Homo sapiens: one gene and its partner. The protein of the gene in region 1 interacts with the protein of each later gene in a biochemical or structural test. Each region holds a gene or a part of one and is shown on either strand. Other genes may lie near its edges. The genes, in order: NR1I2 and ATF3.

The links.
Region 2: the proteins of NR1I2 (region 1) and ATF3 form a complex in vitro, tested with the Homo sapiens proteins (one study listed by BioGRID).

What each region holds. Positions count from the first base shown.
Region 1 is NC_000003.12:119,778,783-119,795,264, forward strand, and holds the start of NR1I2 (nuclear receptor subfamily 1 group I member 2), read left to right. Parts: upstream 1-3,318; 5' UTR 3,319-3,518; intron 3,519-3,927; exon of another isoform or gene 3,928-3,975; coding exon of another isoform or gene 3,976-4,070; intron 4,071-16,482. UniProt on the Homo sapiens protein: Nuclear receptor that binds and is activated by variety of endogenous and xenobiotic compounds.
Region 2 is NC_000001.11:212,599,466-212,616,153, forward strand, and holds the start of ATF3 (cyclic AMP-dependent transcription factor ATF-3), read left to right. Parts: upstream 1-9,295; 5' UTR 9,296-9,465; exon of another isoform or gene 9,466-9,806; intron 9,807-11,374; exon of another isoform or gene 11,375-11,382; intron 11,383-15,552; 5' UTR 15,553-15,556; coding exon 15,557-15,796; intron 15,797-16,688.

The DNA of each region.
Region 1 (16,482 bases):
GGTGGTCCTTTTTCTTCTCTTCAATAAAGGCAGAACTCTATTAAAGCATATTAGTAAAAACCATATTTAAAAGAATTACTACACTGAACTGAGCAGCCACCAAATGCAATTGGTACCAGGTGATATAAGGGCTTCTCCTCTCAGGGGGCTTATAAGCAACTAAGGCAGGAAGTCACAGATACCATATTCTGCAGTGTAATTTACAAATGAGGTGAAAACAAAGTGTTCCAAAATTCTAAGAGAGACATTGGAATTCTGACCACAAGTGTAATTTATGGAGCCTCAGAGTAATTATAGGATCTGGAACAGCTGGTGCTCAAATTTAGTGGTCCTCCAGTTGCTGGAATCTGCGATTTCTGGGAAGTTAAACTTTGTGTCACTGCTTCTACTTGTGATAAAATGAAACCGCTTTCAAAGAGAAGATTCCTATTCCTAGCCTTTTTGGGTAACTTCTACTACCTCCACTTAAGGATGAAAAGGGAGAAGTTTCCTCCAAGACTGCCTCATGGGGATCAGAGTGTCACCTCCATGCTCCTGCCCTAAGTGCCCCTGAGCACACCCCAGAGGGAGGCTAAGAGATTTTTGAGAAAGACCATGTGACTGGCTGATAAACACCTATTTTCCTCAGATTCCACCTGAATTTATATCATCAGTGCATCACTCTTTTATTTTGTTCTCTCTGTTCCTCTTTTTAAATATTAATATTCTCTGGAGAGGGGTAAAACATTAAATGAATTCACACTGAGGAAACTGGCCAGGTACAATGGCTTATGCCTGTAATTTCAGCAATTTGGGAGGCCAAGGCAGACAGATTGCTTGAGCCCCAGAGTTTGAGACCAGCTTGGGCAACATAATGAGACCTCGTCTCTACAAAAGAAAAACAAAAAAAAAAATTAGCCAAGCATGGTGGCACACACCTGTAGTCTCAGGTATTTGGGATGCTGAGGTGGGAGGATTGCTTTAGCCCAGGAGGTTGAGGCTGCAGTGAGCCATGACCATGCCACTGCACTCCAGCCTGGGTGACACAGCAAAACACTGTCTCAAAAAAAAAAAAGAAACTCTTCAGGCTGATCAGATCTGCTTTTCTCTGATGAGTTTCTTAGGAGCTCTACATTTCTGGTTGCTGCAATAGGCAAAGTATAGAATGGAGGTCAAGGCCTCAAATTTCTCTGACTTCCCAGCTGGGCTTGAGAGTGACTCTGGCCCTCAACTGAGGGCATTAGTAAGCTGTCCTTAAGAACGAGAGTGTATTTTCTGGCTGTATTCTTAACTCATTTCACTATAGAGCCATGTCTGATATTAACAGTGCAGTGCTAGACTAGAGAGGCCTGGCACTCCTACAGCCTTCTCCTGTCTTCTAGCTGGGACTTCACACCACAGACCCAAAGGAAAAGAGACCCAAAGATCCCTGCAGAAACCTGAGAATATTTCCTTTACCTCAGTGGTTTCATAATCTGTTCTTAGTTTCCTGTTTCTGCTGTAAATAATTCACTATATTTTTAAGAGAGAGAAGGTCAGGCCCTTGTGAGCCAGAAGGGATTTGAGAGATGATGAAAGCTACGTATGTTACCCATAACCTAAGGACTTCTGGCAAGGTGGCCTACCTGAGCTGGAGTCATGCCTTTTTTCCCTGGACTTGGAGATACCTGTCAGTGCAGAAAGGCCTACTTTTGATCTTGGAAATAAGTTTCCTGGGGTGAGTTCTTAACCCTTTCCAGCTTTCCCACCCTCTTTGGCTTTAGCCATGGCCTTCTGATCTGTGTTTCTCAGGGGACCTGCAGGCCCCAGATATAGCCCCATGCTGTCCTCCTACCCCAGAGCACACTGTTCAGGCTACTTCCACTGGTACTGAAATCCAGTATTTCACTTACTCTTTTTCTTTCCAATATCCTCATGACATTCAATATTTCACTTACTCTAGGTCCTCCCTGCCTAAGGCCCAAGTCAACTTTCTGTCCAGTGGGATTTGTAATCCAATACCTCCTAGCCCTAGCAGAATCCCATGTGGATAATCAGAAATGTGACTGGAAAAAGGACAGAGCTCTATGGCTGTGGGTCCCAGTCCCCACTGCTGGCAGTAAGTCCCCAGCAGTGAGCTGTGTAAGCACCTTACATTCTGCGCTTGGTTGAAAACAGCAAGGCAAGCATCCACTTGAGAAATGTCAACCCCTAGGAAATCCCAGCCTCAAGTCTTTCTCATCCCTTGGGAAGTGCAAATTGGATAGAGAAGAAACCAATTAAAAACAAAACAAACAAATCATACTTAGATATTCTGGCTTTTCTCACCAGGGCTGGATTAAAGCATGTACTTCAAAATAATAACAACTTAAGTCAATAAATAAATGTAAGGAAGTCCAAATGTTCACCTGAAGACAACTGTGGTCATTTTTTGGCAATCCCAGGTTCTCTTTTCTACCTGTTTGCTCAATCGTGGTCTCCCTCTCCCTCTCTTGTTGGGGCCCATGCCCCTGCTTTACTGTTGCCAGAGGCTTGTACTTGTTTGCCTTTTAGGTAGGAGCAGTTACTTCCACTCCCCTCACCTGCCATAAAGCATCTTTATAAACAAAGCAAGTAGAAGAAACACATCCTGGTATCCACCACATTCGGCTTTTGTTGATTCTGTTCACTTGGGAGCACCTGCTGCTAGGGAATAAGAAGGTTGAGGCTGAAGAGTGAGGACTCTTCAGCTCCCCTCTGGCAGGACCCGGGAGAGGAAAGAGCCCTCAGCTGGTCCATCCTCCCCACTCCTGGTCAGCCTTCTGTTCTGAGATCAAAGTGGTGGGGTCACATTCTCGAGAACTGTGCTCAGCCCCCTCATCTCACACCCTTTCCCTCTCCCTGTGTGCCTGCCCCCCTCTTACATAACCATGCTGGTGATTGGCACCGTCATAAATCAATACTTTGCTCACTTTCACATCAAGTAACACTATCCAGGGAGGTGGTTTCAACAAAGGAGGAAGTATAAGGAGATCTAGGTTCAAATTAATGTTGCCCCTAGTGGTAAAGGACAGAGACCCTCAGACTGATGAAATGCACTCAGAATTACTTAGACAAAGCGGATATTTGCCACTCTCTTCCCCTTTTCCTGTGTTTTTGTAGTGAAGAGACCTGAAAGAAAAAAGTAGGGAGAACATAATGAGAACAAATACGGTAATCTCTTCATTTGCTAGTTCAAGTGCTGGACTTGGGACTTAGGAGGGGCAATGGAGCCGCTTAGTGCCTACATCTGACTTGGACTGAAATATAGGTGAGAGACAAGATTGTCTCATATCCGGGGAAATCATAACCTATGACTAGGACGGGAAGAGGAAGCACTGCCTTTACTTCAGTGGGAATCTCGGCCTCAGCCTGCAAGCCAAGTGTTCACAGTGAGAAAAGCAAGAGAATAAGCTAATACTCCTGTCCTGAACAAGGCAGCGGCTCCTTGGTAAAGCTACTCCTTGATCGATCCTTTGCACCGGATTGTTCAAAGTGGACCCCAGGGGAGAAGTCGGAGCAAAGAACTTACCACCAAGCAGGTATGGTTTTTCTTTCTTTCTCTTTTGCTGGGGGCTGACCGCCCTTCAGCTCCAGCCAAAAGATGTGTGTGAACACAAATATACCTTCTGTTTGAGGTCAGCATCATAGTGGGTCGTGAATCATGTTGGCCTTGCTGCTGTCTCCTCATTTCTAGGGTGGAAAAAAAAAAGCATGAAAACAATCACTTAATGTTGAGCCCCATTACTGATGCTCTCTGGTCCTGCACTAGCCTCCTAGAAAAATCACCACAGGAGAAGCCTTAACTACTGCATGAGTTACCACAAGTCACACATACAACCAGCTCCCTGTTACAGGGCTGGAGTCCCTGGACCCAGGAAATACCACCTCCAAGGACTGTGGGAGCTGGGGACTATGGGAACTGGGATCAACTCAGTCCTGATTCCTTTTGGCCTGCTGGGTTAGTGCTGGCAGCCCCCTGAGGCCAAGGACAGCAGCATGACAGTCACCAGGACTCACCACTTCAAGGAGGGGTCCCTCAGAGCACCTGCCATACCCCTGCACAGTGCTGCGGCTGAGTTGGCTTCAAACCAGTGAGTTTTCTACCTCTACTATTGAAAGGGCACCTTGTCCCACAGAACCGAGTCTTGCCTGCATGTGGTCAGTGCCACCAGGTCCTTCTTCTCTCCACTTTACAGCCCAGCTCGGCTGAAGCTATGGCCAGAGGCACTGCTTTAAGGCCACTCCATATCTAGGACAGGTCAACAGACACCTCTGAGGCCACTGAGTCTTGACTCAATGAATCAGCTATAGCAGGCACTATTCCTCTCCCACATGGCCTCTAATGATATGGTCAGAGTTGAAAGGATGCTAAGGGAGGCCTCAGAGGCTTATTTAATCAGTTGGTTAATGGGAAAAAGTATTTTGTGGTACACAAATACGCTTTAAAAATATTTTAGTTATGTCATAAAAGTCTAAACCTGGGGTTGACAAACTATGGCTCACAGGCTAACTCTGGCCCACCAGCTGTTTTTATAAATGAAGCTTTATTGGAACACAGCCATGCCCATTCGTTATGTATTGTATATGGCTGTTTTTGCCCTACAACATCCTTTCAACTCTGGCCATATCATTAGAGGCCATGTGGGAGAGGAATAGTGCCTGCTATAGCTGATTCATTGAGTCAGCAAAATTGACCAATTGCGAAAGAGACAGTATGGCCCACAAAGCCTAAAATATTAACTATCTGGCCTTTAACAGAAAAAGTTTGCCAACTCCTGATCTAAAAGCTGTCAACTTGTTCCAAAATTATTATGGAATAAACCCAAGACAACCACAAAACTGACTAGACTAGGTTTTTTAGGTAATAACTTTTTAAATTATAAAGTAATACATGATTTCATGCTCCTTGAAAATGAGAAAGCAGTATAGATAAACCTAAATTCACCTTTGGCCATTCTGTCAATCCTAATCTCCAGTTTCCCCAAAAGTACTTAGTGTGATATATTTACTGCCAGACCATTGTGTCTGTGTGTGTGTTCATCTATGCATAGATGGACTATTAAACCTATCTGTTGCCATGTTGTTCTAATTCTGTTTTTCCACTCAATAGCAAGACTTGGAGACTTTCCATATCTGTATAGAGCTCTACTTCATTTATTTTAACTGCTACGTCATATTTCACAGTGTACACTTCTTTTATTTAGCCGTTTTCTTTTCGATAGATATTTAAGCTTTTCCAATTTTTCAGTCTTACCAATGAACCTCACTGTGTTTGTCTGCTTCTAGACATGTGCACGTATTGCACTAGAGGAACTACTAAGACGTTGAATTGCCACATCACAGGATATATGTGGTTCAATTTTTGGCTGCCAAACAGCCCTCCACAGTACCCGAACCGACTGTACTCCCACCAGCAGAGAAGGATAGTTACTGTTCCTCCACACTCCAAACAATGCTTGCTGTTTATTCAGTATTTTATTATTTTTTCCATTGAATTAGTGCAAATGACAACCCATTATTTCAATATTTTAATTTCCCTGATTATTAATGAAGTTGAGCATTCTTTTTATAGGACCCCTCTTGGCCATTGTATTTCTCTTCTTAAATTACCTATTCATATCCTTAGCTTATTTTATGTCGGATTTTTTTTCTTCTTTGTAGGAGTTTTTTATTTATTCTCAATGCAAATTATTTGATATGTGTGTAATATTCTCTCTAAGCTTTGTTTAAATCATACTTTTTAGCCAACAGAAATTTTTACTATTATTGTTGTTGTTATTTTGATGTAGTTGAATCTGTTAGTTTCCCTCTTTCTGGATTTTACTCTTTGAGGCTGATTTTTAAAAGATTTCTCAACTTCCAAAATTATGAAGCTACTTTGGTGCACCTTCCTGTAATACTTTTATTTAAAAAGTTAGTCTTTATTCACCTGGCACTTATTGCAATACATTATTTCAATACTATTTATTGAAAAGTCCATCTTTTTCCTATTTGTTTGAAATATCACCTCTATCATGTACTAAATTCCCACTTACACATGTCCATTTCTGTGTCCTTTTGTATTTATTTCCTATTCCTGAGCCAATTTCCACTATAATGTTTACCTTTTCTACTTGATTTTTTCCCCCAATAAATAGAAAATCTATTTTGTGTTTTGATATTTTGCCTAGTTACCTTATGGAATTCTCTTAATAGTTATAAAAGCTTATCAGTTGATTCCTTTGGAATTTCTAGTTAGACAAACATATCATCTATATATAGTAAGAGTTTTGCTCCTTCCTTTCCAATCTTTACAAACCTTAATTTTTTGTGTCTTATTGGTTTTTCTTTGCCATTCAGCATAATGCTGAGTAGTAGCCATGAAAGTAGATAGTCTCAGAAGTGATGCATACAGTTGTGTGGGTTCTATACTGCACAATTCTAGGAGATACTCTTTACAAACACTTAGATGTCCTAGGAATTCTTGTCATGTTCCTGATTTCCATTTTTATTTTGTACTATGAACTCATTTGGAAACTTCTCTTTGGGACTTGTTGAGATTGAAATTGTTTTCCTCTAGAGGATTTATTTTTGCTTTTGCCAGGAACCTGAGGACAGAACTAACTGGGACCACCATAAGCTTGGGGTCTACTGGCCACACAAATAGTGAGAATCCTGACCCAAACTTACTTGATTGCAGGCCTGTTGTTAAGAATTTCAAAGGAGACTTTTCTTTTTGCTCTACCCAGAGCCAAGGCTGAGAAGGCCTGGGATAGACCTGTCTCCCTCCATGGTTTCTACTGAGGATGTCACCCTTAGGGGATCTTGAGTTTATAGTCTATGATCTGGTTAGGCTCCAGGCTTTGTCTCCTATTCTACCATTAAAATCCAGGCCCCAGGCCTACAGGAGTCCAGAAAACTCCAGGATGATCATGACTTCCCTTTCTCATGCCTCTGGCTTAGCATAATCTTATAAATTTTGGCCTCTTGAGACTTCCTTTACTTTCCTACCAGCTCAATCCTGCATGAAAAATGACATTCTTAAAAATTTAGTATTTCTAGGTGCTGCATACCAGGAGGATTTTCTGTAACCAACTTCTCCATCATAGTGCCAGCAATAAAATCTTTATTTTTTATTTTAATGAGATTGATTCTAATGCTTCTCCAATAAGATAGCTAGTAAAAGTGTTTAGTAACTATTCCATATCAAGTTAGTGAAGCTCTCTTCTATTCCTCTTGGTTAACCAAGAATTTTAAATCATGAATGAATATTGAGTTTTATTAAATGCTGTTAAGCATTGATTAATTTCCTTATCATATCTCCATAGTTAATTATATAGCTCATCCCAAGGGTGATAGAAGCAGAGATGATCCAATAGCCACTAGGACCCTTGGAATGCAGACCCATGATTTTTCCATTAAAAAGAACAATAAATTCAGGGAACGTGGACAACATTAATTCAAATTCTTAGTGTGGTTGCCACGTTCTGTTTGTTGAGCCATCAGACTCTTGCCCTCACACTTCAGATATTGGTGTCCTGGGCACAACCTGGGGAGGACAGGAGGAATGTGTAGGGAACCTCTCTTGCATACAGGGGCTTTTTAGGTGGCACAATTTGAAGGGGGCTGGGAAAAGTTCCCTGCAACACCTCCTGAACCTCTTTGAAACATCGATATAACAAACTGAATATCCAACTGGAAATTGACATAAAGAGACATATCCAAATCCCTCATGTAATGTTTGAAATAATTTTCCTGGATCTGTGTAAGTTCCAAAGAGTCAAACTATAAAACCACAGGCAACACTGGCACTACACATGCATTGATAAGACATAGGCAGTTAACTCAGAGGCCACTGTGTCCTGTTAAATATTGGAAGAGGGTACTGTGTGTACTTATGACCTGGGCTGGTGCCAGCTCTCAACCCTGATCTGTGTCTAGTAACCTTCTGACCTCTTGGATCTGATGACCAAGTCCCAGGAAGCATAAAGGCCAATTTTCATTTATGGCCCCCTGAAGAGAGCAGCTGACTTCTCTTTCTTGAATTCATAAACCGTGACTTTGGCTATCTGAGTTTCCTCTGGAGGCCTGCCCCATGCCAGGGCCAGTGAGGAGGTTTTGTTAATAATACTTGATTTGTTTCATAAAGAATTTAAAACATATAGCCTCATTTTGCCCCCATGAATTCTGTGAAAAAACAACTTGCATCATGTATCTATTTACATGACAGGAAGAATCAGAATAAGGGAAAAGAAAAGATGTTCTGGCCAGGCATGGTGGATCATGCCTGTAATCCCAGCACCTTGGGAGGCCGAGGCAGGTGGATCACTTGAGGTCAGGAGTTTAAGACCAGCCTGGCCAAAATGGCGAAAACCCGTCTCTACTAAAAATACAAAAATAATCCAGGTGTGGTGGCACACACCTGTAATTCCAGCTACTTGGGAGGCTGAGGCACGAGAATCATTTGAACCCAGAAGGTGGAGGTTGCAGTGAGCAGAGATCATACCATGGCACTTCAACCTAGGGGACAGAGTGAGACTGCCTCCAAAAAAAAAAAAAAAGTTCCGTCATTAATTGACTTCATGAACTGGAACACACCCCAGAGCCCCAGTTTCCTCATTTGCAAAAGGGATAATAAGAACTGCCCTGCCCCCGACTCCCTTATTCAACTTGGGATAAGCCCTGCCCTGCCTTCCTCACAGGCACCTTGACATGAAGTTGTAATTTTGAAATCATTTTGTAAACAGCAAAACTTGTGCAAATGTGAGTTAAATTCACCAAACGTCTCCCTTCACTGAACAACGTCAATGGTTTTATAGGCATCACTTGCCTGCATCTTAGAAATTCAGTATTCTTATATTACATTCCCCTTACTTGCTTTTTTCTCTTTATCCTCTGGCCAGTTCTGCTATTAATATGTGTGTGTGTGTGTGTGTGTGTGTGTGTGTGTGTGTGTGTGTGTGTGTGGTGTGTATGTGTATCTTGGAGATAGTAGGATGATTATATATATATTTAATTATGCGTGTGTGTATATATATGTGTGTATACACACATAATTAAATATATGTAATCGTGTGTATGTATATGTATGTATACACACACACATAATTAAATATAATCCTGCTATCTCCAAGAGTTTCTATCCCAAAGATTATGATTTTTGTTTTTTTATCCATTTACCCCCTTTTACTTAGACTCTGTTGCTTCAAATTCAAGTTGCCCACTCTTCTCTTCCCATAATCTCAGTGACCTGGTTCCAAAGCTTGTGCTTTGACTCATTTGAAGACTAAATTTATCTGTATGTCCTCCCCACATCCTTTTCCTGGGAAGGAACTATCTCACCCTCAAAGTACATTGACTTTTTAAAAAATTATTATTATTATTACTTTAAGAGACAGGGTCTTGCTGTGTCACCTAGGCTGGAGAGCAGTGGTATGATCATGGCTCACTGCAGTCTCGAACTCCTGGGCTCAAGTGATCCTCCCGCCTCAGCCCCCCAGAGAGCTGGGACTACAGGTGTGTGCCACCATGCCCAGACACTTTTAAAATTTATTTTTGGTAGAGACAAAGTCTCATGTTGTTGCCCAGGTTCATCTGAAATTCCTGGCCTCAAGTGATCCTCCTGCCTCAGCCCCCCTAAGCATTGGGATTACAGGTGTGAGCCACCATCCCTGGCCATCATTATACAAATTTATTTATTTATTTTCATTTGATTGAGACAAGGTGTCATTCTCTTGCCCAGGCTGCAGTGCAGTGGGACAATCATGGCTCACTGTAGCCTTGACCTCCTGGGCTCAAGTGTTCTTCCTGCCTCAGCCTCCCAAGTAGCTGGGACTACAGGCACATGTCACCACACTTGGCTAATTTTTTATTTTTTTGTAGAGATGGCATCTCACTGTATTGCCCAGACTTGTCTCGAACTCCTGGCCTCAAATGATCCTCCTGTTTCAGCTTCCCTAAGTGCTGGGATTACAGGTGTGAGGCACTGTGCCCGGCCTGTATATTGACTTTAAACAACAATTTATAATGTGAGTCATTTCACATATCTCTTTGATTATTTATTTTATTTCCTAGCACCATAAAGTTGTTTTTATTGACAAGATCATCTTCTCCATGCCAGTCTGTTTGTGTACTGCCAATTTTCTGTCTGGTTAGTTGGATTTCCCTGCTACTACTGCAAGTGTGGACTGCAGACCCATAGCATCAGCTCACCTGGGAGCTTGTGAGATGCTGAAGCTCAGACCCACCACAGACCTACTGAATGGGAATTTGCATTTTCATAAGCTCCTGGGTGATCTGTATGTACTTGAAAGCTGGAGCATCACTCTCTTAGATTGTAAGCACAGGCTCCAGGTTACCTTAAACGGGGGCACTTCTGAAGCAGGCATGGGAGAGAAGGAAGGCAAAAATCTCAATTGCCAGGGCCCTGACCTCCTAGAGATTAAAATGTAGTTCAGAACTCAGGTTGGGATCAAATGCACTTTAATTGACATGGTTATCTTTTTCTTCCTGATTGTAGTGCTTTTAACTACTGTATTAGTCCATGTTCACATTGCTGATAAAGACATACCTGAGACTGGGTAAATTACAAAGAAAAAAAGGTTCAATGGACTCACAGTTCCATGTGGCTGGGGAGGCCTCACAAACATGGTGGAAGGCAAACGGCATGTCTTACATGGTGTCAGGCAAGAGAGAGAATGAGAACCAAGCGAAAGGGGTTTCCCCTTATAAAACCATCAGATCTCATGAGACTTATTCACTGCCATGAGAACAGTATTGGGGGAACCGCCCCCATGATTCAATTACCTTCCACCAGGTCCCTCCCACATATGTAGCATTATGCAAGCTACAATTCCAGATGAGATTTTGGTGGGGACACAGCCAAACCATATCAACTATTGATGTTACTTTCCTTTGTTTCCTTTCTTTCTGCTGCTTCTCCTCCTCACAACTTCTGTTTCCTCGGGGCCCTTCCTGCTTCACAGCTTCCCTGTCCTGCCTTCTCTCTGAGTGCACTGTGGCTGCCATGCACAGGGCAGGACTGAGGCACCCCAACCAGTCTACTATTTTGGCTTCCTTTTCAATTTAAATTCAATTTAAATATTATTTAAATATTTGATCAACATTTATTTGGTGATGTTCTTTTTTTAATTTGTAAAATATACAGAAGGAGCAGGATTGAAAAATTAATTAGTTCTGGTAAAATTCAAATAACAAATTTTACCATCTTAAGCATTTCTAAGTGTATAGCTCAATAATGTGAAGTATGTTTTCATCGTTGTGCAGCCAATCTCCAGAGGTTTTTCATCTTTTAAGATGGAAACTCTACCCATTAAACAACTCCCATTCCCCTCACCCCACAGCCCCTGGCAACCACCATTCTACTTTCTGCTTCCATGAGCTTGACTACTATACCTCATATTTGTCTTTCTGTGACTGGCTTATTTCACTTAGCATAATGTCCTCAAGGTTCATCCGTATTGTAGCATGTGTTAGAATTTCCTTTTTTTTAAGGCTGACTCATATTCTATTGTAGTATGTCCCATGTTTTGTTTATCCATTCATCAGTTGATGAAATTTGGGTTGCTTCTACATTTTGTCTATTGCGAATAGTGCTGCTGTGAACATCAGTGTACAAATATCTCTTCAAGACCCCGATTTCAGTTCTTTTTGGATATACATCCAGAAATGGTTGCTGAATTATATGATAATTCTATTTCAATTTTCTGAGAAATTGCCATATTGTTATCTATAATGGCTACACCATTTTTACATTCCTACCACCTGAGTCCAAGGTTCCCATTTGTCTACAGCCTTGCCAACACTTGTTATTTTCTGTTTATGTGATAGCGGCCATCCTGAATATAAAGTGATGTTTCATTATGGTTTCCCTTTGCATTTGCCTTATGATTAACGATGTTGAGTACTTTTTCATGTGCTTGTTGGCAAGTGATGTTCTTTTAAATGTGTACTATGTTCTTTATGGTCAAAATAAATAATTTATTCTGTGTAATTTTCCAAACCACACAACTTCTTGGAAGGCATGTTTAAGTGTTCACATAATAAAACAGTACATTTCTTCCTTGCAAACAGCCCTACACCACATATTTTTCCATTTCTGGCTCTGTCTGCCAACTTCAATGGGCTGTCCTCAGGGTTGGGTTGGCTGGAGTGGCCCTGTGTGACAGGCATGTGAGTGTCCCTGAGCACCGTACAGATACTAGTCTGCATTGTCAAGGAGTGTTTTAAGTCTCCACCTCAGGGTGATGACTGCTTTGGTAGGAAAGGAGGCAATCTAAAATTCACCTGATTTCTGATTCATTCCAATAATGTTTTGGTGTCTTTGAATATGGCAGCCCCCTGGGCAGCAGTCCAGCCAGCAGACCTTATAACTTAGCTCTGTCTGTATGTCTGACATCCAGACTCACTAGAAGAGGATCTAAATGGGCCAGGGAATTACTTGTCCCTGGGACAGAGCAATTACACCATCCCTCATAGGCCCCAGAAGGCCTATGGACCTTTGCTTGGGCACCAGGAGCTTCTCTGAGAGCAGGTTTGGGGTGGGCTTGGCCTCCAGAGTGGCCTCCTCCTGCAATGTCAGGCTAGATTAACATCTATGAGAGTCTCCTGTACAAGGAGAGGTGGGAGGCTGTGAACACTCCTATGTAACACCATTTGTCCCCTTGTGTGATTGCTTCACCAATGTTGACAGCTCATGTGACACACCTGTCTTCTTCTGATGGAGGAAGGAAGTAATACCATTTTCTATCAAAAGCATTCTTTGATCATCCCTGTCCTAAAAAAAAGTTACTTGATGGGTCTCTTGTCAAAATCAGTGATATGGTTTGGATGTTTTATCCCTTCCAAATCTCATGTTGAAATATGACCTCTAGGCCGGGCTCAGTGGCTCACAACTGTAATCCCAGCACTTTGGGAGGCTGAGGCGGGCGGATCACTTGAGGTCAGGAGTTTGAGACCAGCCTGGCCAACATGGTGAAACCCCATCTCTACTAAAAATACAAAAATTAGATGTGGAGTTCAGAGTGGAAACAGGTGTGAGAGGGTTCAACAGAAGAAAACATAGCTGCCAAGTGTTTGAGTCCATCGGCAAGTTTGGACTGGCCTTAGCTGTTGCAGAAGGCATGGTGAACTCTGCCTTATATAACATGGATGCTGGGCACAGAACTGTCATCTTTGACCGATTCTGTGGAGTACAGGACATTGTGGTAGGGTAAGGGACTCACTTTCTCATACCATGGGTACAGAAACCAATTATCTTTGACCACCGTTCTCAACCACATAATGTGCCAGTCATCACTGGTAGCAAAGATTTACAGAATGTCAATATCATTCCGTGCATCCTCTTTGGGCCTGTCACTAGCCAGCTTCCTCGCATCTTCACCAGGATCGGAGAAGACTATGATGAGCGTGTGCTGCCATCCATCACTACTGAGATCCTCAAGTCAGTGGTGGCTCGCTTTGATGCTGGAGAACTAATCACCCAGAGAGAACTGGTCTCCAGGCAGGTGAGCGACGACCTTATGGAGCGAGCAGCCACCTTTGGGCTCATCCTGGATGATGTGTCTTTGACACATCTGACCTTCAGGAAGGAGTTCACAGAAGCAGTGGAAGCCAAACAGGTGGCTCAGCAGGATGCAGAGAGGGCCAGAACTCACTGGCCACTGCAGGGGACGGCCTGATGGAGCTGTGCAAGCTGGAAGCTGCAGAGGACATCACGTACCAGCTCTCTCGCTCTTGGAACATCACCAATCTGCCGGCAGGGCAGTCCGTGCTCCTCCAGCTGCCCCAGTGAGGGCCCACCCTGCCTGCACCTCCATGGGCCAACTAGGCCACAGCCCCAGTGATTCTTAACACTGCCTTCCTTCTGCCTCCACTCCAGAAATCACTGTGAAATTTCATGATTGGCTTAAAGTGAAGGAAATACAGATAAAATCACTTCAGATCTCAAAAAAGAAAAAAAAAATTTAGCTGGACGTGGTGGCATGTACCTGTAATCCCAGCTACTCGGGAAGCTGAGGTAGGAGAATCACTTGAACCCAGGAGGCAGAGGATATAGTGAGCTGAGATCGCGCCACTGCCCTCCAGAGTGGGTGACAGAGGAAGACTCCGTCTCAAAAACAAAAAACAAACAAAAAAAAAGAAACGTGGCCTCCAATGTTGGAGGTAGGCCTAGTGGGAGGTGTTTGGTCATGGGGGTGGATCCCTCATGACTGGTTTGGTACCCTCGGTAATGAGTGATTCTCACTCTTAGTTCATAGAAGAGCTGGTTGTTTAAAGAGCCCGGCACCTCCTCTCTCTCTTGCTCCCTCTTGCTGTGTGACATGCCGGCTCGCACTTCACCTTCCACCATGCTTGGAAGCTTCCTGAGACCTCACCAGAAGCAGATGCTGGTGCCAAGCTTGTACAGCCTTCAGAAGCACGAGCCAAACAAACCTCTTTTCTTCATAAATTACCCAGCCTCAGATTCCTTTGTAGCAATACAAAATGGACTAACACAATCAGATCTCACTGTAACTCTGGAAACTTGCTGCCCACCCATTCTCTTCTAGCCAAAGTCCACTTTTTCCCCTCCAGAGTTACCACAAGGAAAATGAACAGCCTCAATCCTTACCACTCAGGCAAGATTAAAGAGTTACAGTGCAGCAGAGAGGCAGGACAGGACCACCGTGGGCCAAGCGATCCCAACTCTGCCCAATCAGTGGAGGCTGCCTTCTGGAGGCTGTAGGGGAGGATCAGTTTCCTCACCTCTTCCAGCTTCTAGATGCCGTGGCAATCCTTGGCTCACAGCCCCTTCTTCCATCTTCAAAGCCAGCAACTTAGCATCTGACCCTTTTTCCACATTACGTCTCTTTCTCTGATCAAACCCAGGAAAGCTTTTCTAATTTTAAGATTCATGTGATTAGACTAGGCCTGCCTGGATAATTCAGCACACTCCCCATCTCCAGGTTCTGTACCCTCATCACATCTGCAGAGACCCTTTTGCCATATAAGGAAACATATTCACATGTTCTGGGGATAAGGGTGCAGACATCTTTGAGGGCCTTTATTCTATCTACCATAAGGACACGATCAAAAACATTATAGAGGCATGCCAGGCAATTAATTAATGAAAGTGTTATGACATTTTTCTGAATTCTGTGATGTTGTTACTTGTCCTTTTTAATGTCTGTCATTTGTTGTGATTTCTTTTCTCATTCTTTCTTACAAATATTCTCTTCGGTACATAATTTTGTATTTGTAATTGCGTGTTTTTTAAAATTATTTTTTAGACAGGGTCTCACTCTGTCACCCAGGCTGGAATGCAGTGGCACAATCCTAGCTCACCACAGCCTTGAATTCCTGGGCTCAGGCAATCCTCCCACCTCAGCCTCCCAAGTAGCTAGGACTACAGGCATGCACCAACATGCCTGGCTGAGTTTTTTTGTTTGTTTGTTTTTTTGGGGTGTTTTTTTTTGAGATAGAGTCTCACTCTGTTGCCCAGACTGGAGTTGTGTGAACATGGCTCACTGCAGCCTCGACCTCCTGGGCTCACGTAATCTTTTCATCTCAGCCTCCTGAGTAGCTGGGACCACAGGTACGTGCCACCACACTTGGCTAATTTTTAAATTTTTTTGTAGAGACAGGATCTCACCATGTCACCCAGGCATGTCTCGAACTCCTGGGCTCAAGTGATCCTCCCACTTTGGCCTCCCAAAGTGCTGAGATTATAGGTGTGAGCCACTCACCCAGCCTTTTTTTTTTTTTTTTTAAGAGATAGGGTCTTGCTATATTGTCCAGGCTGGTCTCATACTCCTCACAATTGATCCTTCCACCTCAGCCTCCCAAAGTGCTGACATTAGAGGCATGAGCCCCCACACCTGGCCTATATTCTTTTTTCTTAAATAGGACTGCCCAGGCCAAGCGCCATGGTTCATGCCTGTAATCCCAGCATTTTGGTTGGCCAAGGCAGATGGATCACCTGAGGTCAGGAGTTCAAGATTAGCCTGGCCAACATGGTGAAAAACCTGTCTCTACTGAAAATACAAAATTAATCTGGTGTAGTGGCCCATGCCTTGCGGTCCCAGCTACTTGGGAGGCTGAGCCAGGAGAATTGCTTGAACCCAGGAGGCACAGGTTGCAGTGTGCCAAGATCGTGCCTTTGCACTCCAGCCTGAGTGACAAGATTGAAACTCTGTCTCAAAATAAGTAAATTAAATTAAATAATGTAAAATAAAATAAAATAGGACTGCCCAAATTGTGTAAGCCTCAGAACCCACGTAAGCTGACTAAAGGGCACCTCTACTTGCCCATTGACTAACCTGAACACCAGATGAAATTGCTCTTCCAAACACCACTAGCTGGGGAGTTGGCTCTTGGCTGGGGTTGGTCAGTGCACAGGCCAGTAAGGGAGCTGGGCAAGTGCAGAAGTGGAGACTAGCTGTGTCCCAGACAGCGACTCTCCGGCTGTGACCCTGGAGAGTCCTTTAGCAGGGCAAAGTGCAACATAGGCAGACCTTAAGGGAT
Region 2 (16,688 bases), on another chromosome or scaffold:
TTTCATGGTACTTGGTAATTATCCGTAAATTTCCAATAATCCACACTGACTCCTACATTATGCCTTAGGCCCCAACCTGGCTCTTCTTCCTCCCTCTCTCTCCTCTCTCCTCTGAGTCTTTCCATTACTTTGATATCCCCAACATGCTGATGGCTAGGGGCCATTCCCTTCTTTGACATCCCACTGCTAAGCATTTTGTCCCGAAATGCCCTTATTAGTCTTTTCCCACTTCTACTGCCTACAATACCCAATCAGTTCCTTCCCACCCCAATGCTATGCTCTATAACATCTGAGATAGGGGCATTCCTCCCCTCTCCATCTATCCTAACACCAAGCTTCTGCCAAAATCCAAAGATGTCTGCCTAGAAGTTTCCCAAAATCATCCCCTCCTGTTCTCCTTACCAGCCCTGCCTCAGGTGAGGCAACACTGCTGTACTCCCAAGACTGATCAGATGCCTGCTTAGGGTACCTGTAATGGGGAGGGCCCCCGAAAGTGAGGGAAGCTCAGTTTTAATAAAGCAATCCTGAATTTTGCAATGAAAAGATCCAGGGGAAAAAGGCTATTTTAATTTCAGTACACATAAGAGCATTGTGTTTTGTGAATAATTTTTATTTTGAGTGAACAACATACGAGAGTGGGGATACCACCATCTTCACAGTTCATCTGGCCTCCGATGGCCTCACCTGACCAGTGTTGCAGCCTCCTGATGGCCCTCCATGGGCATCTTCCTCTCCCATCCAGCCCACCCTCAGCCCTCTACCAGCAGTCTTCCTGAAAAACATCTGTTTGTGTCCATCTGCCACTGACAGACCCCCTCCCTTTGTCCCTGGGGACAGAGTCCAAACTGATTATTACATCTTCAAAGGCTATCACAGTCTGTTCTTCCCAGACTTGCTTCCCTAACGTCTCCTCCCTTCCACAAATACTCCTGCTCAGCAATTGCCTCACTGTTCTCCAAACACTGTGCATGTTCTCTCCATTCCGTATTTTCATCCACTGAATGCGTATTCACTGTGGGTCTGGCATGTGCCTGGAACTGTGCAAAGAGCTGGAAATAAGGACAGAGATGAGCAGGGCACAGCCCCTTCCTGGCACTCACAGCCTCTTCATATGACTTTCTCTATGCCTGGAATGCCTGTCCACTTCCCTTGCCTAGAAAACGGTCGGCTCAACATCCAGCTCGACAGTCACCTCAGCCATCAGCTCTTGCCAGCTTTCCTGGGCAGAGCCGTCCTGCCCCACTTTAGCCCTTGCTGCATCAGGCTGTAACTATTTGTTATCAAGTCTGTCTCCCCATGGGCTGTGAGCACCTGGAAGGCAGATATGCATCACTGTGTACCTGCAGCTTCTGACACGGTATCCAGCATATAGTTGGTGCTCGTTAAAATGTTGGAGGACTAAACATACATACATATATATATAGTATATATATAAAATACCTACTATATTGCTGGACTTCTGCTTCATGTATATTAATTTGCCACCTAAACAAGATTTTTAACTCTTCAGGTCAAGAAATGCTCTTATATTGTCCTTGTAACCCCAAGGTGTCTAAGTAGACTGCTGAGAGCAGTGTCCGGTAATAGGACACAATTTGATGCATTGATTGATAGGCATAAACTCACTGGAGTGACTCACTTTGCCCTCAGCCACTCTAGTTTCAAGTACAAGTTCATCATCTGATGATTCAAGTTCATCGTATTTTGGGAAAAGAATAAAAGTCCAAAAAGCCCTACTCAGTTTACTCAGTCAATAACAGGGCTTATGTTTGTGGTTAAAGCAAATTATGAAATAATTGCAAATTTGGCAGGGGGGAAAGTATCCCTGAGGGCACAGGGATCTGGAATTTATTAAGCATGTATCCTCTGGGACATCAGGAGTAAGAATTTTCTGGTAAGGTCAACTCTAGAAGCATCTGTGCATTCAGCAAGACTTTGGTAAAGCGAGGGTGCTCATTTTCAACAAGGTAGGGAAGGCTAAAGAAAAGTAAACACACATCATGCTCTCTAAGATTTTGAGGACAGTATCGCTTAATGTAAGTTTTGAAATAAGTTAGATTTGTGTTTAAATCAAGTACCTATGAGCAATTTTCTTAACCTTTCTGTGCTTTGGTTTCCTCATCTGTAAAACCGAGATAAAAAACCTACCTCACAGGTTATTATAAGGATGAAATAAGATACTGGGTATTTTTAAAAGTGCTTACTATTGTGCCTGGCATGTAGTATGTGCTCAGTAAATAGTAATTACTAAATAGGACCTGGCCACACATCAAGTTTTTTTAAATTTGTTTTAAAATCAGTCAGTAAGCCAGCCTGAGAGATGGAACTTTCCATGAGGGTCTAGACACTTTGGTGTCTCAGGTTTCCATATGACTTGGTAGCTTCAAGGGTAAGGCGTGAAGAGGGAAAAAAGCAATATTTATTGAATGTCACTTTTGAGGGTGAATTGTTTTTTAATTTTGGGGGGTATATAGTAGGTGTATATATTTATTGGGCATGTGAGATATTTTGATACAGGCATACAATGTATAATAAAGGTGTATTGTTCCTTAATCCCATGATTAAGGAAACAGATATAAATGAGGAAACAGACATTATCCTCATTTTACAGGAGAAACTGAGGTTATAAGACCTTCTTAAAACTAAATAAGCAGTGGCAGAAAGAGGATTTGAACTCAGTTCTATCTGACCACAGGTTCTTTCTGCCATCCCTGGCTTCTACCCTACACCATCCCCTTTTCAGCCCCAAGGATAGTATGCCTTGCCAGCCACTAGCTAAGGTGCCCCTAAAATGTTTTAGGGTGCTCTTCTTACAATCAGCTTTTTTCACCTTGGCCCTATTCTTAGCAAAAGCAGCATCTCCCCAGGTGGAGGGCAAAAAAGGGGTTCACGAGTCTCAATGGCTGCTAAGGTTCCTTTCGGTATGAGAATTTATGATTCTGACACGATGTAGAGCCACATTTTTCTCTGTAAGCTCAGTTTCCTCATCCATCAAAGGAGGGCCCTGAACTGCATCAGAGCATCCCAAGTTTCCCGTGAGCACTTGCCAGGAGGTGGTAGGTATCGTGGTTGCGCACTCAGACTTGGGAGTCAGACTGCCTGGGTTGAGTCCTGCTCTACTGCTCACTAGCTAGGTAACTTCTGGCAAGTTATTTACCCTGTCTGTGCCTCAGTTTCCTCATCTATAAAATGGAGATGTTTACGGTCCATCAAAGGGTGGTTACAATAATTAAAAGCATTAACTGTACGTAAAGGGCTTAGTACATAGCACGGAACACCCAGAATGCTACATAGTAACATTTTACACTTAGAAAGAAGGGAGGGAACTAATCCTCTCAAGGTCCCAGGAATAAAACTTTTGGCAGCCGATGCTAGACCCAGAATGTATTTGATATCTTCTCTCTTTCCTTAGAAATCCTTGCATGACTTACATTCAAATTCCACATATCTATATATGTTTAATACAACACAATATTTTAAGGATTTTTTATTTAAGGCAGACACTCAAGTAAGATCTCCTTTGTTTATCTCATGGCCCTGGTACACCTGTGTGTGCTCATGTCCAGTTTGAGAAAATGGAAGTGAATGACTTCTAGGGTCCTTTTGGCTATGGTGTCTTTTAGTTCTGAGAATCACCGCCAAACATCTACACCTGCTCAGGTGCAGACTGAAGTGACCAGCTACCTGGTAGCCACTCATGTCACCAAACTGGCATAGAGATGCTAGAGCTGCCCGAGCTACACTGAGAATTTTGCCTGAAGGCACAGGGAGAAGCACAGCCTGGCTGCTCTAATTCTGTATTACTAGCCCATGCTGCAGACTACATTTTCTGCTTCAAGGTAGATGAAGAGGAAATAAAGGAGGATGGGAAGCAGAGAGGGGCAGGGATTTAAAAAAAGGAAAAAGCGCCTGCAGGATTTTTTGTTTGGATGTTAGGAAACAAGGAAAATGCACAAGTAGTCACAATCTTTGGGGGTCCTTCCATCTTCCACCATATATATGCCGTGTGTAGCATTTGAAGGTAGACATCAAGACTCATTCTTTAACCCCATTTAAGCATCCTGAGCAATGATGGTATTTGATATCCTTTCTCTTATAAAAATATTTGAATTTGTATAGCATTCAAGCAAAATATTAGCAACACTCTAAATTCTAAAAGTAGGGAAATGATTAAGTAAATCATAGAACATCCATTGGCAAGTTATGGTAATAAGAATCAGGATAGTGGTTACCTCTGGGAAGCAAAGAGGTCTACTTCTTGAGTGGTGAGTTCCTAATGTGTTTGATTATTAAAATGTGTGTGTATATATATGTGTGTGTGTGTGTGTGTGTGTGTTCTATATAATCTTTTGTATATATGCTATACTTTATAATAAGACATATTTTTAAGAAGAAAGACCATATACCATTCGAGGTAATAAGCAAAAGAGCAAATTTCAAAGGTGCATGCAATCTAAAATCATAACTGTATTTTAAAATCATGTACATGAGAAAAAAGATTAGAGGGAAACACACTACAGTGTTAATAGTGTTGAGATTGTGGGTAATATTTTTCCCTTGTCTGTTTCCCAAATTTTCATAATGACAAAAAAATTATAGTAAAACTTTCCCCAAAGAAATCTTTAAAACTATGAATCTTTTATCTTCAAATCACTTTCACATCTACTATCTCATTTGATTCTTACAACAACCTAGGGGGAGTCAATGCTAAGTGGTTACGTTTTATAGACTGGGAAACTGAGACATCGTGTTTATGACTTGTATACTCACTCAGTTGACTGGAGGTAAACCTGTGGATGAATCCCCGGTCTCCTGAGTCCTGCTAATCTACTGACTTCCAGGACTTCATCTTGGATTCTGGGGTCTCTGGATTCAATCTCTCAAATGGGAATATCTGCTACCTGGGTTTTGGCCCTGTAGACCAAGGTAGATGTCTATGGTTGTTGATGATGGGCTACACACAAGAAGTCACCAGAGATGTAATCCATGCCTGGGGTGTTCTGCCACATCCCTCTCTCACAAGGCACCTAGTCCATGGGGGTGAAAATTCTTGGAAGTATTGGAGGTGGGAGAAGGACAGGCTGTGTTTAAGTTGGACAACATTTCTTAACTCTAGTTTTTGGAGGGGAAGAAAGGTTGCAGAAATGGGTCTGTCCTTGTTCTATTCAGTGCCTTACCTATGATGTCTTCTCTCTCCCCATCTCTCTTAGGGAAAGTTGCCAGAAGCTCATAGGGTGGCTTTGGCAGAGGGTCCCCATTCAGGACCGTCAGAGCTCAGCCCAAGGCTCCTCACTTCAGAAAAGTTGGGAGCCTTAGAAACGGGGAGTGCCTTGCTCAAGAATACCAAAGACAGAACCAGACCCCAAACCCAAATCCCCTGCTCCTAGCCCAGGATACTTGGCAGGGCCATCCAGCATTGAGGAGAGCCCCAGGTGTGTGGTGGAGTTGCTGTGATGGGGAACGAGGATGGCTTTCATCAGTGTCTGCCTGGGCTCTCACTCCCGCCCCCTCTTGATTGTCATTCCTGGAGATCGCTTGACTTCATCCACTATTTTCCACTGACAAGTGATACTGAATGAGTTCCTGGAGAGATTCAAGGGTACCTCAGAAAGCTTCTCTTGATTCATAATTAATTAATGATACCACTACTGAGGGCTGACTGGGTGCCACATCCTCAGAGAAATGTCACAACAATCTTATGCATTAGGTGCTATTGTTAGTGCCATTTTTCATTTGAGGAAATAACTTACTTAAGGTGACACAGCATCTAAGTGCTGAATCCAGAATCCAAGTGCCTTCCACACTTTGGTGCCTACTGTGTGATGCTGCCCCTGTTTCCTGACAATGCCAATTTTGGACACTATTAAACTAGCAATCCCCACATTCAAACTGACTTTGTAGAAAGAGTGAGCTTCGGAAACAGAATAAAGTATAAGAAAATGGACTCCACTCCCGTTCCAAAGCGAAGAAGTAGGTTGAGCCAGGCAGACAGAGCTGCTAGTACTCTGCCGCTTCTCTGGCAGATCTTATCTTGTGTTTCTAGCATTCTGGGCACGAATACAGTCTTAGGGTTTAGAGAACAGAGTAATGGGGCAGAGGAATGTGGGAAGGGACTGTGCACTGAACTAAGAAACTGCTAGAACCTTTAAATATCTCAAACTTTTTTGTTTTTTCTTTTGCGTTTGGCTCCCTGCAATGTTTTTCTGTTTAGATTTGGTTGCCACGAGTGGGCTGTTTTTAGTTGCCTAGTTCCTTCCCCTCCCCTTTTAATTTTTTCCCTTCCTTTTGCACATGTCCCAGCATGAAGTCTCCAACTCTTATCTCACTCAGCAAAACATACCAAGGCTGATCTGAATGTGGATTCCCCAGGCAATTCACCATCATAAAACCTCAGCAATCTTCAAGTCTCTGCTTAACCCTCTTTCATTGAGGATTAACCCCTGAAATCACCCTAGCCAGGGCTTCCTTCTAAGGCGAGACAGCCATTCTTTTGTTTGCATGGAGAAGAGTTTTGGTGTGGAAAGCTTTTCTGTCCCCTCCACTTCATGGCACTGCCTGTGTGTGTGCTGAGAGTGTGCACACTGGACATTGGTGGCATTAACTGAAGTCAGGGTAAAATAAGGATGCAAAGGACTCAGATGTTGATCACTCTCCTGTGGCAAAGACCTCAGGGGCTCTGCCTTGCTCTGTTCTTTTCCAGTCTCTCAATTCAGCAGGCATTTCACGGTTCTCCTGGGGGCTGAGGGGAGGGAGGCAGGCAGGAGTAGTTTTCGTTTTCCCTGGGTAAGAGTTTCATTCAAGTGGGAGTGGACTTAGTTCTCTGTCAAGATTCTTATCACTTTTCGGGTTTAGAATATCAGGATCAGACTTCCGTGAACAGCTGACAGCATTTCTATCCAACTTGGAGATTCCAAACTAAGAGTAATTAGAATGAAGCAAGATTGATAAAAAGAACTGGAGGCACAATGGTAATAAGAATAACCCGACCGGGGTGTTGGGGGCTTCTCCCCCCACCCCAATTATCCTTCCCTTGCATTGTTTTGTGGAGGACGGTCTGGCTGTTTGTTTACTTGACGCCCTAAGTTGAATTTCCCCTTAAGGACAGGAGCAGATCTCCACAGATCTGGCTTGGGTGTTTTAATGGAATCATAGTTCAACCTGTAAACTGGTCAAAATTTCTGTTTCACAGCAGAAAGAGTAAAAAGCTTCACGTGTTCTCCCTCCTCTCCTTGCTTCACTTTATAATGGTGCTATTTATTCCAGAACAATCTATAAGTAGATAAAATAGCTAAGTAGAGATAACAAATAACTTCATTCAAATGCAAACACTCCTCCACCTAATCCCGCCCGGTGTCCGCCGGGCTGCTCCGACACGCCCGGGGTTTACCTGCGCGCACTCCAGCGGGAGGGCGGGTTGTGGAGGTGTGCTGAGCGGCGCGCGGGGGTGAGGGCGTGGAAGCGGAGGGTGGGGCCCGGAGAGCCGTTACCAGGGCGAAAAGTAAAGCGAAAACACCCGCCCTGCACTTCCCGCGCGACGCCGCTGGAAATCGGTTCAGGTCCAGAGCAGGATCTCGGAGGATCCCGCGTGGAACTCCAGGGCTCCCGGGTCCGCCGGGGCGCAAAGACTTCCGAGGCCGCCCTCCGCGTGTTCCCAGGCCCGTGGAGAGGTGGGTGGTCTGAGTGAGGTCGGGCTTGGCGGCGAGGAACCCCGGTGGGGGGAACTGGGGACTTCAAGTGAGACCCAGGCTCCAGACACCTCTAGTTTCTACCCCAAATTACCAAACTGTGACCTTCGGCCGCCTCTCTCCCAGAGGCAGGTGGAAAGGAGCAGGTGTTTCTGCCCTTCACCGTGCCCCCACACCCTGCGGCCGCGCAGGTCTCCCTCCCAGGCAGGTGCGAAAGTCCCAGGCCACACTTGTGTCTACAAATAGTCATCCACGGGCAGTCAAGAAGGTTCCTTGGTTCTGCCGCTCTCTGAGCAGAAATTGTTGGGGTCGGGGAATAAGAACCAGGAAATCGTTTTTAAGGTTCAAACCCAGTTCTGCTGAGGTCTCAGCTCGAATCTCGGACCACGGGGCCCCGCCTTTCCCGCCACCCTGGCTTGAGGGCAGAGGGGATTTCTGCTGCGGGTTCCGCCTGTGGTCATTGCGTCCCCATTCCGGGCCGTCCGGTCCCAGTCCAATCGGCTCTGGGAGCAGAAGAACACGTGAAAGCTGAACATGGGTTTTCCCTAAATATTGCCTGAGAGCGGGGCGACCCCCAGGCCTGGGCAGGTTCGCGGACCCCAAAGCACCTTCTCTTTCCCCCTCCTCCTGGCCGCTGGCTTCCGCCCCCTCCTACCCTCCCACCGGGTTGCCTCTGATTCCTCCTGGACTCCGATCTTTTCACGCTCTTGTTGGTTTCACTGACATGTTCTTGTCAATTTCAAACGCTTTGTGATTGTAAAAAAAAAAAAATCGAACCGATACGGTCCTACCACTCGCCCTAGTTTCGGAGCCCGGAGCTGTCCTGCGTGTGCGTCCATGTGGAGTGTCCGGGGCTGCGGGCTCGGGCGCACGGTGCCAGCCGAGGGCTGCCCTCCGCTTTTGTGTTAACCGGCGGGCTTCTCGCGGTCCCCGCCGCAGAGGTCACACCCGGCGGGTAACGGCGTGGATACACCGAAGGGTGACTTTGGACACCTTCCCCACACCACAGACTAACGCTTCTGCCCCTACTCCGCCCCTGCTAGAGAAGTAGGAGGCCAGTGGGGGAGGGGGTATTTTCCTGAAGCTCCAGAAAATGACCACGCATTTTAGAGAAAGGTCGTGCCCGCTTCCCAGCCTCACCTAGTCTGGGCTGGGGCCGGGACCCGCCTCCCCACCTTCCCCGCCCCCCCCGCTCTTCAACCTAGCGGAGGGACAGATGCCAGCGCGGTGGAGTCATGCCGCTGGCTTGGGCACCATTGGTCATGCCTGGAACACGCAGCAGCGAGTACGCACATCTGGCGGCTATCCCGGGCGGCTCCGGTCCTGATATGGAGAGAGAGGGCGGGCTGGTGTGTGTCTCAGTGAGCGAGGCTGGGGGAACGCGCCTGGGCTGGCTCCTCCCCGAACTTGCATCACCAGTGCCCCCTCTCTCCACCCGCCTTCGGCCCCGCCTTGGCCCCTCCTCCACCCCCCTTCCTCCGCTCCGTTCGGCCGGTTCTCCCGGGAAGCTATTAATAGCATTACGTCAGCCTGGGACTGGCAACACGGAGTAAACGACCGCGCCGCCAGCCTGAGGGCTATAAAAGGGGTGATGCAACGCTCTCCAAGCCACAGTCGCACGCAGCCAGGCGCGCACTGCACAGCTCTCTTCTCTCGCCGCCGCCCGAGCGCACCCTTCAGCCCGCGCGCCGGCCGTGAGTCCTCGGTGCTCGCCCGCCGGCCAGACAAACAGCCCGCCCGACCCCGTCCCGACCCTGGCCGCCCCGAGCGGAGCCTGGAGGTGAGCGCTGGAAGCCGAGGGAGTGAGCGCGACGAGGGCTGCTCGCCTTCATTCCCTTCGCGCCCCTCTAAGTAACCAGTCCGCCGACCCCTGACCCACCCCGGATCCGCGCCCCCAGCCTCCGGCTTGGAAATAACTCTGGCTTAAACTTCTTCTAAGCCACCGCTGCTCCTCGGCGCTTCGAAAAGTTTCCCGCAAAGCGAAAGAACTAACTTTCTCTTTTGACTTGGGGCGCGAAAGGTTCCTGGTGACGGAGGTCGGGCGTCCACTCTGCCGCCAGCCTCGAGCGCCGCTTCTCTCCGCCGACGGCGCTGGCTTGCCCGGCTGGGAGAGGGCGTAAGGTGGGTGGGCGGGTGCGTTGGGGTGTCCGAGGCTGCCTCGCTCGCCGTCCCGCTCCATCCCTCGCTTCGAGACACGGCACTGTGGGAGCCGATCCTTCCCGGGTGGGGGGGGGGGGGCGCAGAGAGGCACGAAGGCCGGAGGCTTGCGGGAGGGCTGCCCCACGCGCCGAGAGGAATGAATGGGGAAGGGGCGAGAGGGCGGGAGGCGTCCCGGGCGCGGCCGCTGGGGGTCGCCCTGGGTACCCCGCAGCACTGGCGGCAGGACCGTGAAGGCAACCCCGAGAAAAAGTTAGCTGGGATAAGCTTGGAAGTGGCGAGCGCTGGTGTCGCGCTGTCCCGGGGCGGAAGACGGGGAGGGCTCCCGGCAACGGCTGGTGTCCGGACCCCGAGCCCGGGACTCCCACACACCTGGGACTCTCACTCTGGCTTTTCCTTCGGCGGGTCCGCGGGAGACCCACCGTGGCGGGGAAGCGAGGGTGTGGAGCCACTTGTGCAGATATTTGAGAGAATGGCTTTGTGGTCTAGTGCCAGGACTCTGAGCGCTTACACTGCAATCGATGTCGTTGGGCCTCAGTATGCGGAGCCGGGAAATAAGGGCACATGGGCAGTACCGGCCCCCTCTGCGTGTTGGAGGGCACAATGCAGTGGTTGGACCAGATAACTACTAAGGTCCTTTCTGTCTGGAGATTTTCAGATTTTGGAGTGGTGTAGTGGGGAGAAAAGGAGCCAGTGAGGGGACTTGAATGGGGTGGGTCTCTATCTAATGTCATTCACCAGTGTCCAGACAGTGGGGGAAAGGGGACTTTTCTGCAGGGCATCTTTTCCCTCACCAGCTTTCTTTCCACTGGATTCGTTCTCCTTCTCTGCTCCCCCCACTCCCATTTTCATTTCTCATCTACTTCCTTTCCTCCTAAACATTTTCTTTTCCCTAATTTCATTGCATAGGTCACATATGCTTTCTTACAAATAAAATAGTTACTAAATCCTTGATGAACCCAGAAAGAAAAGGAGAGCCAGAAAATCTGGATGTTCTCTCAGTGTACCCCTTTCGTTGTAGGTGACAGTCATATCTTCTGTTCGAAGTTTCTGTCTCTGTAACTTAAAGTGAAGGCAAAAAATTGGTATTACTGTCCCCATTGTTTTGCAGTTAGCATTGGTTGTAGAATAATGCTACAACATACAGGCTCCTGCTTTGAGGATATCCTGGGCAAAGATGGGATGGGGTGAGGATTGCAGTTACTGTCGGAATGGTTTCAGAGACAGCAAAGAAGGCAGCACCCCACGCCCGCAGTGGGGATAAGATACAGCACCCAGCATCTGTGGCAGTGATGGGAGCCTTCTTTTTCTCTCTCTCTTCCTCCTTGCCCTTTAGCCATTATAGAATTCCTTTTTCTCCATGGCCGTTTTCTTCGATAGCCCCTCCCTATCTCAGTCCTGTCAAAGTCTCCTCTGTGATTGGTACCAGGTGCCAGGACTCTTGACCCCTTATCTACCTGGCTAATGGCTCTGTTCTCTGGTTGCCTTGTTGGTTGATCCCTTGAGGCGGTCGATACCTATTGGTGATGGAGCAAAATGAGCAGTCGGTGGGTGTTCAGCAGCTTGGCATGGGCTGGGCCACTCACCAGCTTTATGACCTCAGGCAAGTCATTTTTACCTCCCTGGACCAATGTACTCATTATGAAATGAGAATCTGACCTAGATGATTCTAATATTGAGAGGGTGTGATTTCCATTAGATAGAGTCCATGATTCCTTCCTTTTTAAAATTGGCTGGGCATGGGACAGGGCCAGTGGCTTCGAGTGTTTACCCAGCCAGGGGAGGAGGAAGGACATAGCCAAGATGCCTCAGAAGCTTTCCAAGGGAGAAATGGTTTATATGTGAGAATTGGTTCTCTTTCAAATATGTAATGCAGAAATGCTGGCATCAGCAAATAGTGGGGTGAAACCTACCTGGTCTGTGAAGAACTTGGGGTCAATGAGAGTACAAAAGAGGCTCTGACTGACCTGAATGTCTTGAAGGTTCCAGTTAATTCCTCACTAACAGGGCTTTATTGAATTGATAACAACAGAATGAGTTTTTCCTGAAATGGAGAAGATGGAGTCACAGTAGTAATGACTACCCGGTGTGTATGTAAATCTCATATGTCCTTCTCAACAGCCCTTTGGGGAAGGCAGTTTTGATCTCAAATTACAGAGGAAGAGAATGAGAGGCCCAGAAAGCCTAAGTGATTTGTTGGTGGATGCTCAGCTTATGAGTGGCACTGATAGGCTTAGAAACATTGTCTCTGGCCCTTGATGCCCAGCTTTGCACCTCTTCAAGAGGTCTGGGAGGAAGACCAAGATATGAAGAGTTAGTGAAAGGCCAGTACTGGCTTCCTAGTAACATAAGATGGTTAGCAAGCAATGCTTAGTGGAAAGAGGATGAAAATTAAAAGTGAAAATTCAATGTAGCTGTAGCTACTAGGAAATAAAAATCTGGGAGCTGAATTTCCAGTTAAAGGAATACATGAGTAAACTTTCACTTTCTTGAAAATGATGAAACTGCCAATGATACAACATGATTTCTGATTGGAAATAATCAAGCAGAAACAAAATGCAAGTTCTTGGTAGCAAGTCTGAACAATTTTATGATCAGCATAGAAAGTCAACTCTGATCTGAGGTCCCCAAACAATTTTTTTCAATGACCGGGATGTTTGAGGATCTCAACTTTCTGAAAAATTGTGTGAAGATTTAACTTCATTTCCTTGTGGGGACACAGCCGTAGTCTAGGCTGAATCATACCTCGAGAGACTGAGTAAAGGAATAACTAGAAAGTATCCCGAGAAGTTAAGCTTTAGCCTAGTGCCGAGAAAACCCAAATCTCGACAGATACATCTGTTTTATTTTCTGAAAGGCTTTTAACATTTTTACAACCATTTATGTCCCCAAGGAAGCCCACCCAATGCTTTTCATAAAAGCATTCCATACCACTGACATTCTTCAGCTTCTTTCATTGGGACTGCTGACTTTACATAAGAAGAAGGGTAGGGGGCGGGAGTCATAAACAGCAGACCCCAAGCCCTGAGAGCTCATTAATAAACCTAGTTGGATGGCAAAATGGAACTACACTCTACTGCAGTGGAATTCAAAGTCCCCGTGTAGAAGGGAGCCATCCAGGCCTCCAAACAAAGACCAGCCCAGTGGCAGCTCTGAATGTCATCCCCGAATCACTGAGTTTTTAATAAACTTGGAAAGGGAAGGGAAACATGAATGCATGGGAGAATCTTAAGCCTCTGGCTTTAGAAGGCTAGTTTCTCAGAGTTTATTGCCTGACAGCGACAAGTATCCTCCCAGCATCCTAAGATTATAGGATTAAATTGAGAGAAGAACTTCAGTTCTGACTCATGACACAGGGCTTTGGGAAAAGAATTACATACATAGCCTGGGTTTCTTTGACTAGTCAAGGGCAGATTTCATTGGCCTGGAAGTCTTGCCTCCATTGGTGTATGTTAGATCTCCAGGGGGAGTTTGAAGTCAGGGTATTCTATTCAGAAGCCTTTGAGATCAAAGTGGGTGACCAGCTGCCCTCCTTCCTGGACTCCACAGAGCCTCTGTCAGAGAGCCAGCCCTGGGCTGGAGAGATCTCTGGGAGGCCTAGTAATCATGGAGCTCCTGGCCAAAGAATGTTTTCCAGGGCATATTCATGTATTAGTTCCTCAATTCCTCATAGGATATTATGGGAAAATAGGGCGATTATTACAAGCCCTCTTTAACAGAGGAGAAAAAGCCACGGGGAGGTACAATGATAACACATAATGGAGTAAGTGGGCTTCAAATCTTCATCTTCTGACCTCAGTCTGGGAATTTTGTGGATAAGAGACCCACTTGCTCACACTCCCAGAAGGCAGTTAGCAAGCAGCCTGGGTATGCACCGTGACATAAAGATTAGCAGTTCATTAAACAGAGTTCAGTTTATCCCGAGGAATCTTTACTTAGCCTCCCCTCTATCACTTCATTTCCAGGCCTCCCACCTACCTTAAGGCCTGCCCCGAGAAAATTTGCTCTGGTTTTTTGTTTGTTTGTGCAATATAACATAATGCTTGTTTGTTTTTGTAATGTAGAATAATATTTGTTTGTTTTTTGCAATGTACAAATTAAGGGCATGAATCCTGGAGCCAAACTAACTTAATTCCAAATCCTGATGCTGCCCCATATTAATTCTGTGAATTCGGGCAAATGACTTAGTTTGTCTAAACCTCAATTATCTCATCTATAAAAGGCAGCTAGATCTTAACTCACTGGGTTCTCGTGAGGATTAAATGAGATAGTGCCCCTAAGGTTTCTGGTATGAAGGAGGCACTCCTTAAATGTTCGAGACTTGCCAGAGGGCTTCTTCTCTGTCTGGACTGTGCTAATGACCACAGATCCCCGGTTGAGAGGAATGCCCAGACCACACTCATCCTACACTCATCCCTATACTCATTGTCCCTTGGGAACCAACTGCAGGGAGGAGGGGAAATGGCCACCACTGGAGGGAGTACACAGCAGGCCAAGACTTATGGGGGACTCTTCCAAATTGGGGCCATGGAACTGTCACTATTTCTACTCTTTATTTTCCTTTTGTCATCCTTTTGGGTTCACCGAGCTATAGAATAACAGAGGGAGATGAATTTAGCAAATACATCACTGAAGCTTCTCCCTCGGAAGTTGGGCCCAAGCAATGGGAATGAGAAAGGTAACCTTGGACCGTGGGGGCCATTTGATTTGATGACCCCATCCCCACTTCATTTATCAGTTGGCCAATGAGGCATGGCGAGTCAGGCATTGGGCCAGGCTCTGGGTAAAGCAATGGTGGAGACTCAATGCTTGCATTGGAGGAGCTGTCAGTCATTTACCAGACACAGACTGGGTCCTAGAGAGCTGAAATTACTAGCTCAAGTCACTGCTGTTTAGTGCCAGAGCCAGCCCCAGGGTTCCCTGCCCCCACACCCAGCCTAAGTCTATCCCTATACCACAGGCCTGAACAACTCCCCCACAATACAGTGCCTCACTTTTCTTTAAGACCTTTTGCTTTGCCAACCTTAACCTTAAGAATCCACCTCCCCATCCCCTGCCAAAGACTGGGGTGAAGAAACGCACCTGGCTACAGTTACCTTTCTCATTCCCATTGCTTGGGCCCAACTTCGGGGGAGAAGCTTCAGAGATGTATTTGCTAAATTCAAGGATTCCCCACTTTTTGCTTTTACTTCCACTCACTGATAGTTTCAGCTTGACGTCAAGCCTCTTTGAAAAAGAGGCTTTTTTTTTTAAGTGAAAGAAACTTTATTTTGAGTAATATACAAAAAAAAAAAAAGAGAGAGAGAGAGAAAGAAAAAGAAGCTGAAAATGAGATTACTCATGATTTTTAAAATGGCCTCACTGATTTTTAAAAAATGTTCTTCCTCTTTCAGGACTGTTTGTGGCCACATTTGCACATAGGCACACCAGCCAAAACTCATAGATCTTGTGAATTCAGAGTAGCCTGAAACATCATCCCTTATAAATTTCAAATAGGCATTTTGTTCATGTCACTGAGCTATGTGTATTTTAAGAACCTGCTTTACTTAAGATGAGGATGGCATGAAATGAAAACAAAACAGAAACCCAAGGGCTTATGGGACTTTTCTCTGAGGGTGGGGCTCTGGTGTTGGAGGTCTGGTGGGGGAGGGGGACTTGATCCCATGCCCCAGAGCCCCTGAAACAGTTTGGGTTTCAATGTGTCTTTCAGCAAAATGATGCTTCAACACCCAGGCCAGGTCTCTGCCTCGGAAGTGAGTGCTTCTGCCATCGTCCCCTGCCTGTCCCCTCCTGGGTCACTGGTGTTTGAGGATTTTGCTAACCTGACGCCCTTTGTCAAGGAAGAGCTGAGGTTTGCCATCCAGAACAAGCACCTCTGCCACCGGATGTCCTCTGCGCTGGAATCAGTCACTGTCAGCGACAGACCCCTCGGGGTGTCCATCACAAAAGCCGAGGTGGGTTCTATCACAGGTATTCATTCTTTCGGCACATGTTTCGCTCGCAGCCACTGTGTGTTGGGCATGTTCTAGGCAGGGGGCTGTTGTTGAGAGTGAAACAAACAAAACCACTGCCCTCAGGGAGCTTACCTTCTCCTGGGAGGAGACAGAAGTACATAACATACGTAAGTACACGTTAAGAGATGAGTGCAAAGGAGAAAAAAGCAGGGAGCGGGGCAGAGAGAACGGGTAGGGATGGGGTTGCTGGGTTTAAAAACTTTTCAGGCCAGGCATGGTGGCCCACGCTTATAATCCCAGCACTTTGAGAGGCCAAGATGGGATTATCGCTTGAGTCCAGGAGTTTGAGACCAGCCTGGGCAACACAATGAAACCCAATCTCTATGACAGTATTAGCTGGGCAAGGTGGTACATGGCCTATAGTCTCATCTACTTGCGAGGCTGAGGTGGGAGGACCGCTTGAGCCCAGGAGGTTGAGGCTGCAATGAGCCGTGATCACCTCACTGCACTCCAGCCTGGGTGATGGAGCAAGACTCATTTTGCTTTTAGAGACAGTGTTGCTCCATCACCCAGGCTGGGGTGCAGTGGGGTGATCACGGCTCATTGTAGCCTCAGTCTCCTGGGCTCAAGCGATCCTCCTGCTTCAGCCTCCCAAAACACTGGGATCACAGGGATGAGCCATTGCACCCAGCCGGGGTTGCTGTTTTAAATTAGGAAGTCAGGTAAGGATTCACTGATAGTGACTTTTGAGCAGAGGTCAAAAGGAAAGGAAGAAGGAAAGAGGAGAGGGAAGAAGCCACGTGGGTATCTGGTAAAAGAAATTAAGGGCACTGAGGTGGAAGTATTGGTGCCTGGTGGGCTGTGCAGTGGGGCAGAGTATAGGGGTGGGAGA